Regions from separate parts of the Homo sapiens genome. Here regions 1 and 2 are each reported to be linked to region 3. Evidence: microRNA targets listed by miRTarBase, many of them from high-throughput screens and not tested one by one. Region 3 holds a microRNA gene; each other region holds the end of a gene's coding sequence. Distances are between the middles of the regions.
The links. Region 3 holds the annotated microRNA hsa-miR-1295a (UUAGGCCGCAGAUCUGGGUGA, at 2,053-2,073, opposite strand). A microRNA usually pairs through its seed, bases 2 to 8, with sites in the 3' UTR of a target mRNA and lowers its output. Matches are read on the target gene's strand: a 7mer-m8 pairs with bases 2 to 8, a 7mer-A1 pairs with bases 2 to 7 and ends in A, and an 8mer does both.

Region 1: miRTarBase lists NOL9 as a target of hsa-miR-1295a. The part of its 3' UTR that is shown has no 7-base or 8-base seed match.
Region 2: the mRNA of BSND is a reported target of hsa-miR-1295a. Seed matches in the 3' UTR shown: 7mer-m8 at 744-750.

The regions. Positions count from the first base shown.
Region 1 is chr1:6,523,394-6,526,393 of GRCh38, forward strand. NOL9 (nucleolar protein 9) reads right to left here. Exons shown (of 12, transcript NM_024654.5): 12 at 1-2,610. The coding sequence ends at 2,461. Among named protein-coding and RNA genes, the nearest start is that of NOL9, 30 kb to the right of the region's middle.
Region 2 is chr1:55,008,303-55,011,302 of GRCh38, reverse strand. It overlaps BSND (barttin CLCNK type accessory subunit beta), which reads right to left. Exons shown (of 4, transcript NM_057176.3): 4 at 1-3,000. The coding sequence ends at 2,675. Among named protein-coding and RNA genes, the nearest start is that of BSND, 11 kb to the right of the region's middle.
Region 3 is chr1:171,099,686-171,103,033 of GRCh38, forward strand. It overlaps MIR1295A (microRNA 1295a), which reads right to left and starts at 2,121; the gene lies at 2,043-2,121. The region is part of intron 2 of FMO3 (flavin containing dimethylaniline monoxygenase 3); the gene reads left to right. It overlaps MIR1295B (microRNA 1295b), which reads left to right and starts at 2,054; the gene lies at 2,054-2,113.

The sequences.
Region 1 (3,000 bases), 160 Mb from region 3:
ACATGGTGAAACCCCTTCTCTACTAAAAATAGAAAATCAGCCAGGCATGGTGGCGCATGCCTGTAATCCCAGCTACTCGGGAGGTTGAGGCAAGAGAATCACTTGAACCCGGGAGGCGGAGGTGGCAGTGAGCCCAGATTGCGCCACTGCACTCCAGCCTGGGCAACAAGAGCGAAACTCCATCTCAAAAAAAAAAAAAAAAAAAAAAAAGGATAAAAAGGCCACTGCCATCAATAATGGGATGAATTGTCATCCTGGAGAATGGTGCTGCTGCAGGTCTGACCGGCACAAGCTAGACCTGACAGAGGCCTTGGCTCCCTGTCTCCGAACCTCCTTCCCTAAACCCTGTACAGCTTCCTGGGCCAACTCTAGCCCCAGTACGGCCACCTGACCCACAGCTGATAGCTCCCTCTAGAGGCAACGATTTTTCTTTACTGATAGGGACTGAAGAAAAAGACTTGACCTTCATACAGGCCGCATTTAAAGCCTGAAGGCAAACCTAGATTGAATGCAAATGCAATTACAGGGCACCAGTTTCATTCTTCCAGAGCCTTGCTGCAAATGACCTCCAGTGAGTATAACTGTAAGATACACGAAAGTGGAGAAAGGCAAAACATTGATGGTGATGGATTGTCTTAAAATTCTTTACAAGGCCAGCACAGTAAAACATCATATGAATGAGCCAGATTTCAACATAAATAAGGGGCAACTAAGAAGCTAGACTCAATTGTCTCAAAGGTATCAAAACTAATCACCATAGCAAGGTTTCCTGTGCTTATTTTAAGTCCTTTGCTGTTGGGTCTAAGAGGTGCTGAGGGGCCACTGTAAAATACTAAAGACAATGATAACCAACAGTTGTATAAGTGTATATAAGTGTTAAAACCCACACATCCTAATAGTCTTACAATGTGATCATGCTGGGAAGATGGAATTCTGTCAAAGCGGTGGTCACAATACCAGTTTGAACCTCAGCCCCAGGAAGTATCCTGCTGTCTTAAATGCAGAAATGATGTGACCTGGTCCCATCACCCGTTTACACAAACCACTTCCAACCTAGAGGACAGAGTCGGAAGCACCAGGGAGAACGTGGAGAATGGCAGTCTGGTCACCAGCCGCCGGCACCCCCAGGAAAAAGCTCTAAATGGCAGGGTTGTTCATAGGTGCAAGTTCAGGTCCAGCCTCCCACAGGCAATAATGGAGCTTTCCCAAGAGCTGGTCTGCCAGTCCTTCTTCCTTCAAAACAGCCCAGTCTCCAGCTCTGCCCTGTGGTTGTCTCTGGCCTCAGATCAGAAGTCAATTTGGACAAATCTACTTTTATAAGAGCCCCCAGAAGAGGTTTTCCAGATTATTATTTTTTTTTTTTGAGATGGAGTCTTGCTCTTGTTGCCCAGGCTGGAGTGCAGTGGCGTGACCTCGGCTCACTGCAAGCTCCGCCTCCTGGGTTCATGCCATTCTCCTGCCTCAGCCTCCTGAGTAGCTGGGACTATAGGCGCCCACCACCACGCCCAGCTAGTTTTTTGTATTTTTAGTAGAGACGGAGTTTCACTGTGTTAGCCAGGATGGTCTCAATCTCCTGACCTCGTGAACCGCCTGCCTTGGCCTCCCAAAGTGCTGGAATTACAGGCGTGAGCCACTGCGCCTGGCCCCGAGGTTTTCCAGATTTGAAAGAAATTTCCTCAGCATAAAACCTCAGGATTAAAAAAAAGGAAGGGCTCTTGGGTCCAAATTTATATCTATCAAACCCGTTTAAATTTTTCTTTTCTTTTTTAAAAGATAAGGTCTTACTCTGTCGCTCAGGCTGGAGTAGTTGGTGTACTCCAGCCTGGAACTCCGAGGCTCAAGCAATCCTCCCGCCTCAGCCTCCCAAAGTGCTAGGATTACAGGTGTGCATGAGCCACCATGCCCAGCCCTATCTATTAAACCTTGATTGAATATAACAGACCAAGTACAACTGCACCAAATGGATGGGCTGTAACCATCCACACTGGCTCCAAGGAAGCAGACCGCTGGACCCCAGCTCTGCACATGGCTCAGGCAAGGCCCGTGGCGAGCCCTTGTATCCATTATGCTTGAGATCCTGCAGGTCGGCCTTCTTCCTTCCTTCTCGGTACATTGTAATGGCCCCAGTTTCCTTATTTTTATCCTGATTCTAATAACCAGGTCCCTGAAGAACTTTCTGAGGAATCTCTGTTTTAATGGCACACAAACTGTTCTCTGCTGTTTTACTCCCTCTGGACAGCAAGTATGAGTATCACACAGAAGACTAGAACAAATTCTAGCTCATGCAGCTTTAAAAGAGAAACTTAAGACTACTATATGACATTCACGAATTACACAAAAAACACTGTTGCTAATAAGGGCACCATTCATGGCCATGAAACTCCATCATGTCTCTTGTGGTCAGGCTTGAGACAAAGCTTTCTGGTAGGAAAGTTTCTTCCCTTATTAAAAACGCGAGCATCACTTCATTTTTCGACAGAACTTAGGTCTTCGGTATGGTTTCTCTTTATGTGCCTCCTCAGGTTCTCTTGCTCCAATTTTCTCTGATGCTCCAGGAAGTTTAAAATTGTAATCCGTTGTGACATAAGGTACTGTCCCTTCGATCCCACGCTGAAACGGAAACACAGAGAATGCATGGAAACACTCCAGGTCCAGCCCAGAGGGGTTTACAGTGCTCTCTCACACCTAGAAGGCAGTGTCATGGTGATGGTCTGGGTGGGGACTTCTCACTTTTAAGGCATTTGATCCCTTCCTTCAGAGCCCCCTTTAATCAACTGGCTCGGTAACAAACGTGCCAAGGCCTCCCTTCTGTCCCATTCCATCAACACAGCAAACAGCGTGAGGCAGAGTGGGGGTGCAGTGTGCGTCCCTTTCAAATGAGGGACACTGGAGGATGAGAATGGTAGGAATATCCCCCGTTCCCAGAGCCCACTCGCAGTCCCTGTGGCTGGCTCTGGGGCACACAGACGCCTTGACCTGGTCCCGTGATGCCTCTGAAGA
Region 2 (3,000 bases), 120 Mb from region 3:
ACTTAGCAGAGGCAGTCGGTGTCAACCGGGACCTTCCTGGGCAGATCAGGTGTGTGGTCTCCCCATCATGCAGCAAGAGCCAGGGAGACCAAGCCTGGGTCTCACCATCTCACTCCACTACCCCAAGCCCCCTGCAGATGCTAACTCTAGAACAGGGTTACCATCTTCCTGCTGGCAGGCCCAGCAACCAGAGGCTCTTGTTTAAGTCTAAAGCCACTGCGGTTGTGGTTCAGGGGTGTGGGGAATCACTCCTGAGATTCAGCACCACACAGCACACCCCACGGTCATGCCACTGCAGTGAGGGCTTACTTCCGGAAGAGGGCCTCTGGTGCCCGTCAGGCGTAAGGCCTCACGTATCCTGCCCCGAGGGAAGGGGTGGTTTTAAAGAAAAGAATTTGCAGGTGAATGAAGATGACCCCTTTAAATGTTGAAAGTAGTTTTATTTTAGCCCTTAGTGCTGACGCTGTTTCTAACGTGGGTTGTAGGCTGCCCTGCCTTAGGCAACAGAGCACAGGAGCATGCTACCCCTCACCTCATCCGAAGACTCAGCTGTGACCAGGAACTCCTGTCCTGAGTCATGACAGCAGAGAGGGTGTACCCTGTGGCATCCTTCACTGCAGAGGCAGAAATGACCCAGAAAGAAAAGGAAGTGTGTTCCCAGGGCCATGACCTTGTAACCCAGCACACAGGGGCATCTCCTTCCCTAGGCCAGGACCCCCGGCCTCAACCCGGAAGCCCTTCCCTAGGCCGGGAACCCCAGCCTCAACCCAGAACCCCATAGCCCAGGTGAAGGTCTCTGACTCCCAGGTGGCCCAGGGTGCAGGCTCTGAGGGCGTGGTCCTGGTTTGAGGTAGTGTTACTGCCATTTTCTCTGCAGCTGCCAGGATCCTGGGCTGGGGCACAGGCAAGCGTTGCAGGGATCAGCGTAACAATAGCATCACCCTGAGATGGTTCAATAGGGTACAGTGATGTCTTCAGGGGCTGCAAAGACAGCTTGAGCTATTTCCCCACCATACTCAACTGCCCCAAACAGCTGGGAGGCTGTCACTCTTCTGCCTCTGGTGTGTCCATTTTTTACTTCTCTGTTCCCACCTCAGCTTCTGCTCTGCACTCACAGAAATCAAGCTCACTAGATTGTGAGCCCTCTGAAGGCAAGCACGGTGTCAGTAGTTCATGTCTCTTTACCCCTAGAGATCACAGCTCAATATCTGGCATATAGTAGATGCTCACTAAATGCCATCCAATTCCAATTGTTTTGTTTTGAGGCAGGGTCTCACTCTGTCACCCAGGCCGGAGTGCAGTGGTGCGATCTCGGCTCACTGCAACTTCCATCTCCTGTGCTTAAGCTATCCTCCAGCTCAGCCTCCCAAGTAGCTGAGACTACAGGTGTGCACCACCACGCCCAGCTAATTTTTGTAGTTTTAGTAGAGATAGGGTTTCGCTATGTTGCCCAGGCTGCTCTCCAACTCCTGGCCTCAAGTGATCCACCCACTTTAGCCTCCCAAAATGCTCAGATTACAGGCATGAGCCACCGCACCTGGCTAGCCAACTGATTCAAACTGAAGTAGGCCAGGAAGATGAATTTCACCTACAATTCCAAGTCAAAGCAAATGTATTCCAGAGGCAGGGGTGGGGGGTGGTGTTCCTCTGGGGGCTTTTTGCCTGCTTTGTGAATACATACAGGCCATTTAGAAGTTTGAATGCTGGGAAGTAAGAGGGCTGTGAGTCTAAAAGTTGGGAACGTGGGGGAGAGTGATTTTATCTGCAACAGGTTCCTGGGTCCTGGTGAGTTCTGTACACCCTTGATGACCACCGATTCTGGGCCAGGCCAAAGGCCCATCTGGGCACAGGCGATCTCAAGGTGAGTAAAGTCAAGATGCTGCCCTTCAACGGGAGGCAGGCAGCCATGCCACACTGACAAATATACAGGTCCCAAAGGCAGCGCAGAGAGGCAAGACCACCTGGTTCCAGGAGGCAGCGACATCAGGAAAACCTTTCCAAGGGAGGTCATCTGTGTAGGGGTTTGAAGGGTGAGCACGAATTTGCCAAGCTGAAAAGGGAGCCAAGGGCATCCTGGTGGAGGAGAACAGCTTGGGCAAGAGTGTGAGCCGCAAGATGGGCAGGGGGGCTAGGCTTGGAACTGGAGGAGCAGAGAGAATGAGGTCAGCAGGGGTCAGTCACAGAAGGTTTTGGGTCCTGGCCAAGGAGCGATGGGAGCTGCAGGAGGAATGTGGCCCAGGAGGAGATGAGGCTCCCTCTGTGTAAAGACGGATCACGCCATCTACCAAGTGGACTATAAGACACAATAGGAATGGGAAACCTGACTGGCCTTCACAAAGGATCAGGGGCCCAGAGGGAGCACCAAGGAAGGTTCCTCTCAGAGGTCAGCTTTGGGGGAAGGTGGAAAATGCTTTTGAGGGCTTCAGCTGCTGCAAACCTCAACAAATCATATTTTGCCTTCAAAGGTTGGCCAAAGACCACTAACTATTGGAAAAACAAGAGTCCACTAATAGTCATCATCCCCTCCCTGTGTATTTCTTTACCATTCTCAAAATGCCACCATCTCATTGAACCTCCATATCATCCCATTTTGCAGATAGGGAAACTGAGGCCCTGTGATGTCACACAGGGGTCAGCAGCAGTTCCAGACTAGAAGCTACGGAGCACAAACATCTCAGCCTTGGGTGTCAGGCTCAAAACCCAGCTCCTTGTCCGGGAGGAGGTCCCCGGCTCCATCTGGCAGCCCATAGTACAGGTCTTCCTCTTCCTTCTCAGGTTCCTCCCCACCTGTGTCCGAAGCCTCCTTCTCCTCCACCTTTGTCCTTGGGTACCGCTGCCAGTTGTTGGGCAGGGCTATTTCCCACTGCTGCCCCTCTTGGGGCTCATCCTCCAACGTTGGGGCATCAATCAGGGCAAAGTCTTGGAAGCGGTCCAGCGGGCACCTGCAGCCCTGAGGTTCCTGTTGTGGGGAACAAGCTTCCTCCCTGTCATGTGGAGATG
Region 3 (3,348 bases):
GTCTATTCTTAACTCCTTTGTAAATTGCTGGTTGCCATTTCACCAAGTGGCCTATCGAGCTGACCATGTCTTTCTTTTTTTTTTTTTTTTTTTTCTTTTTTCTTCTTCTTTTTTTTTAGACAGAGTTTCTCTCTTGTTGCCCAGGCTGGAGTGCAATGGCACAATCTGAGCTCACTACAACCTCCACCTCCTGGGATCAAGGGATTCTCCTGCCTCAGCCTCCCGAATAGTTGGGATTACAGGTGTGTGCCATCACGCCCCGCTAATTTTTGTATTTTTAGTAGAGATGGGGTTTCGCCATGTTGGCCAGGCTGGTCTCGAACTCCTGACATCAGGTGATACACCCGCCTCGGCCTCCCAAAGTGCTGGAATTATAGGCATGAGCCACCACTCCTGGCCAGCCATATCTTATACACAGTGATCTTAACCAAAGCCTCATACTCAAATTTAGTTTGCAAGACGTTGCTGAAGATAGAACGCACTGCTGATATGGCTATTGAGAGGAACACAGCCAAAGACAGCTAATTTGTCTTTTCTTGCTGCTCGAGGAAGACTTTAAAATTTGAACCTGGCAGCATAGGTTGATAAAACTGAACTGCAACATGTGCTACCCTTCAAGAAAAAGAAAGGATAGCCCAGAGGGTAGAGCCTCAGGCCCTGAGGGCAGAGGCCTGAGCCAAAGCCTTCAAGCCTGAAGGAATTTGTCCTACTGGATTTCAAAATTGCTTGGGATTAGTGATTCTTTTCTTTCCTCCTTTTTCCTCCCCGGTTAAATGGGAATGTCGATAACGGTTACCCATGCTTGTCCCACCATTGTATTTTGGAAGAAGATAACTTGTTTTCTAGTTTCACAGGTTCACAGATAGAAATTTTGCCTCATCCTGGTCCATATCCAGAGTCTCATTTATACCTGATTTAGATAATTTATATGATGATGAGATTTTGGACTTTTGAATTGAAAATATATAAATGAGAGTTGAGACTTGATTTCATGCTGCTATGGGTTGAGACTTTGAGGATGTTGGGATTGGGTTAATGTATTTTGCAGATGGGATGGATGTGAATCCTTGGGAACCAGAGGATGGCCTGTAATAGGCTGAACAATTTAACAATGCCCCTCCTCAAAGATATCACATCCAAATTCCTGGAACCTGTAAATGTTATCTTACTTACAAGAGAAAAGGGTATTTGCAAATATAATTAAGTTAAAAATCTTAAGATGGAGAGATTTTTCTGCATTATGTGGGTGAGCCCCAAACGCTATAATGAATGCATCGTTAAAAGAGAGAGGCAGAGGGAGATTTAACACAAAGAGAAGAGAGAAGGTGATGTGATGACCTCAACAGAAAGAGAGAAATTTGAAGATGCTATGCTCTATCTTTGATGATGGCCAGAGGAGCCATGAGTGAAGGCGTACAAGAGGGGTCTTGCCACTGAAAAAAATAAGAAATGCCAGCATCCACCAGAAGCCAGAAGCGGCAAGGAATGGATTCTCTCCTGGAGCCTCTGAAAATGAACATGGTACTGTCACACTTCGTTTTCAGCCTACTGATAGTGATTCCCGACTGCTGACTTCTAGAACTGTGAATCAATTGCTATTATTTTAAGCCATTAACTTTGTGGTAATTTATTACAGCAGCCACAAGAAACTAATACCTTTGGTTTTTCAGCGTTTCCTATTTTACTACTGTGAGGGGGCTTATAGATTGCAAATGATGGAGCAAACAGCAGTGTTTCTCAGATCACTAGAAGTCTGCAGCAATAGGCTTAGTATTCACATTATAAGATTGTTATAAAATTGTTCTAATTTTGTATTTGCCTTCCCTTTGGTTTCTAACATCATCATTTTACATTATCTTAACTTTTTTTAAATTTCAGAGAGATCCAAACATTGGTTAAAACTTAGCTAACACTAAGGGTGCATATAGTTGAAACTGTTGGAGCTGTTTACTACAGCACTTTCTATGCCCTTCTAGTTCTGACTTCTAACCCTGATCTAGAGCCACGATGATGTATTTCCCTCACCTTCTTTGGTCACAGAAGGAGGACATTTCACCCAGATCTGCGGCCTAATCACAGGCCACATTTCTGAATAGGCCACGGATCTGGGCAAAATGTCCTCTTTTCTCAGGAGCTCCCCAAACAATAAATCAGTAAATCATATGAATTTTTGCATGAAGTTTTATGAATAGTGGCTTTCTTCTGGGAATACCTCCCTTTTTTAACTTCCTCTGATTTTTTTCTGGACTATGTATCAATTTTTTTCTTTAATGTTTCTTCTCTCTTTATGCTGATTATCATCTCTTTAAACTTACCCAACTCACAGAAAGCTACAAATTTTTGCACTTCCCCATCCCACATGCCTATAGCAGAGTCAACAAACCATGTGAGCAGCAGAAAACTCATGTCCTATTTAAAGAACACGCTGCTTTCTGAAATGAACATGGCAACTAATCTGCCAATTAATTATTTGTCAATAATGAAACTGCAGCCACATTGGCTTTTGACGTGATTGTAATATTCCAATATTATACTAAAATTTCATGTTCTGGGAGCCCTGACAACTTTCAGTTAGATGAGCTCTAATTAGAAGTTTCTAGTGCTCAGTACTTTCCACTATGAACTAGCAACTACACATAGAGATCTACAATCTGATCTTTCATCATGAAACTTGAGATATAAGTACCTTGATGCTTCAACAGAGCTAAACCAAGGCTCCACCTCTTCCTAATCATGCTCCAACCAGTATTTTTTTTTAACTTAATGCCTTTTATTCATTCAACAGCTTGCTTTGCAGAGCTCACAGCTGTAACAGATGTGTCCTATGGTAAGCTCTTCCACAGTAACTGTAGCCTGTTGGTCATGAGCTTCCATTTGTTGAACTCTACATTGTGACTGACAAACTTGGCTGCACCTTAAAATTACCTGAAGAGCTTTTAAAACTTGCTGTCAATTAAATCAAATTCTCTGAGAGTGGGACCTAATGCTCAGTGTGTTTTTTAAAGCTCCCAGTTTATTTCAGTGTGTGGCTAAAGAACCACAACACAATATCCTAAACTTCTCATTACTGATCATTCTTTCTTCAATGTTCTTTTTCTTTATTCATCATCACTTAACATTTCCTCTAAGGCTTTATTAGCATAGTTCTATAATTCCTTAGAGTTAAAGAAAATTCAGATATTTTTACATCATTGAAAGCTAAAACTTTGTTACTTACATAAGTGCTTAAAAGGCATGCAATGCCCATAAATTCTGTGTTAGATTCAAAATAGTTAACCTTATTTTATACATTATAGAAATTCTAAGGTTAATTTTTTAAAAATTAGGTCTTAAAATGCTTACATTTAC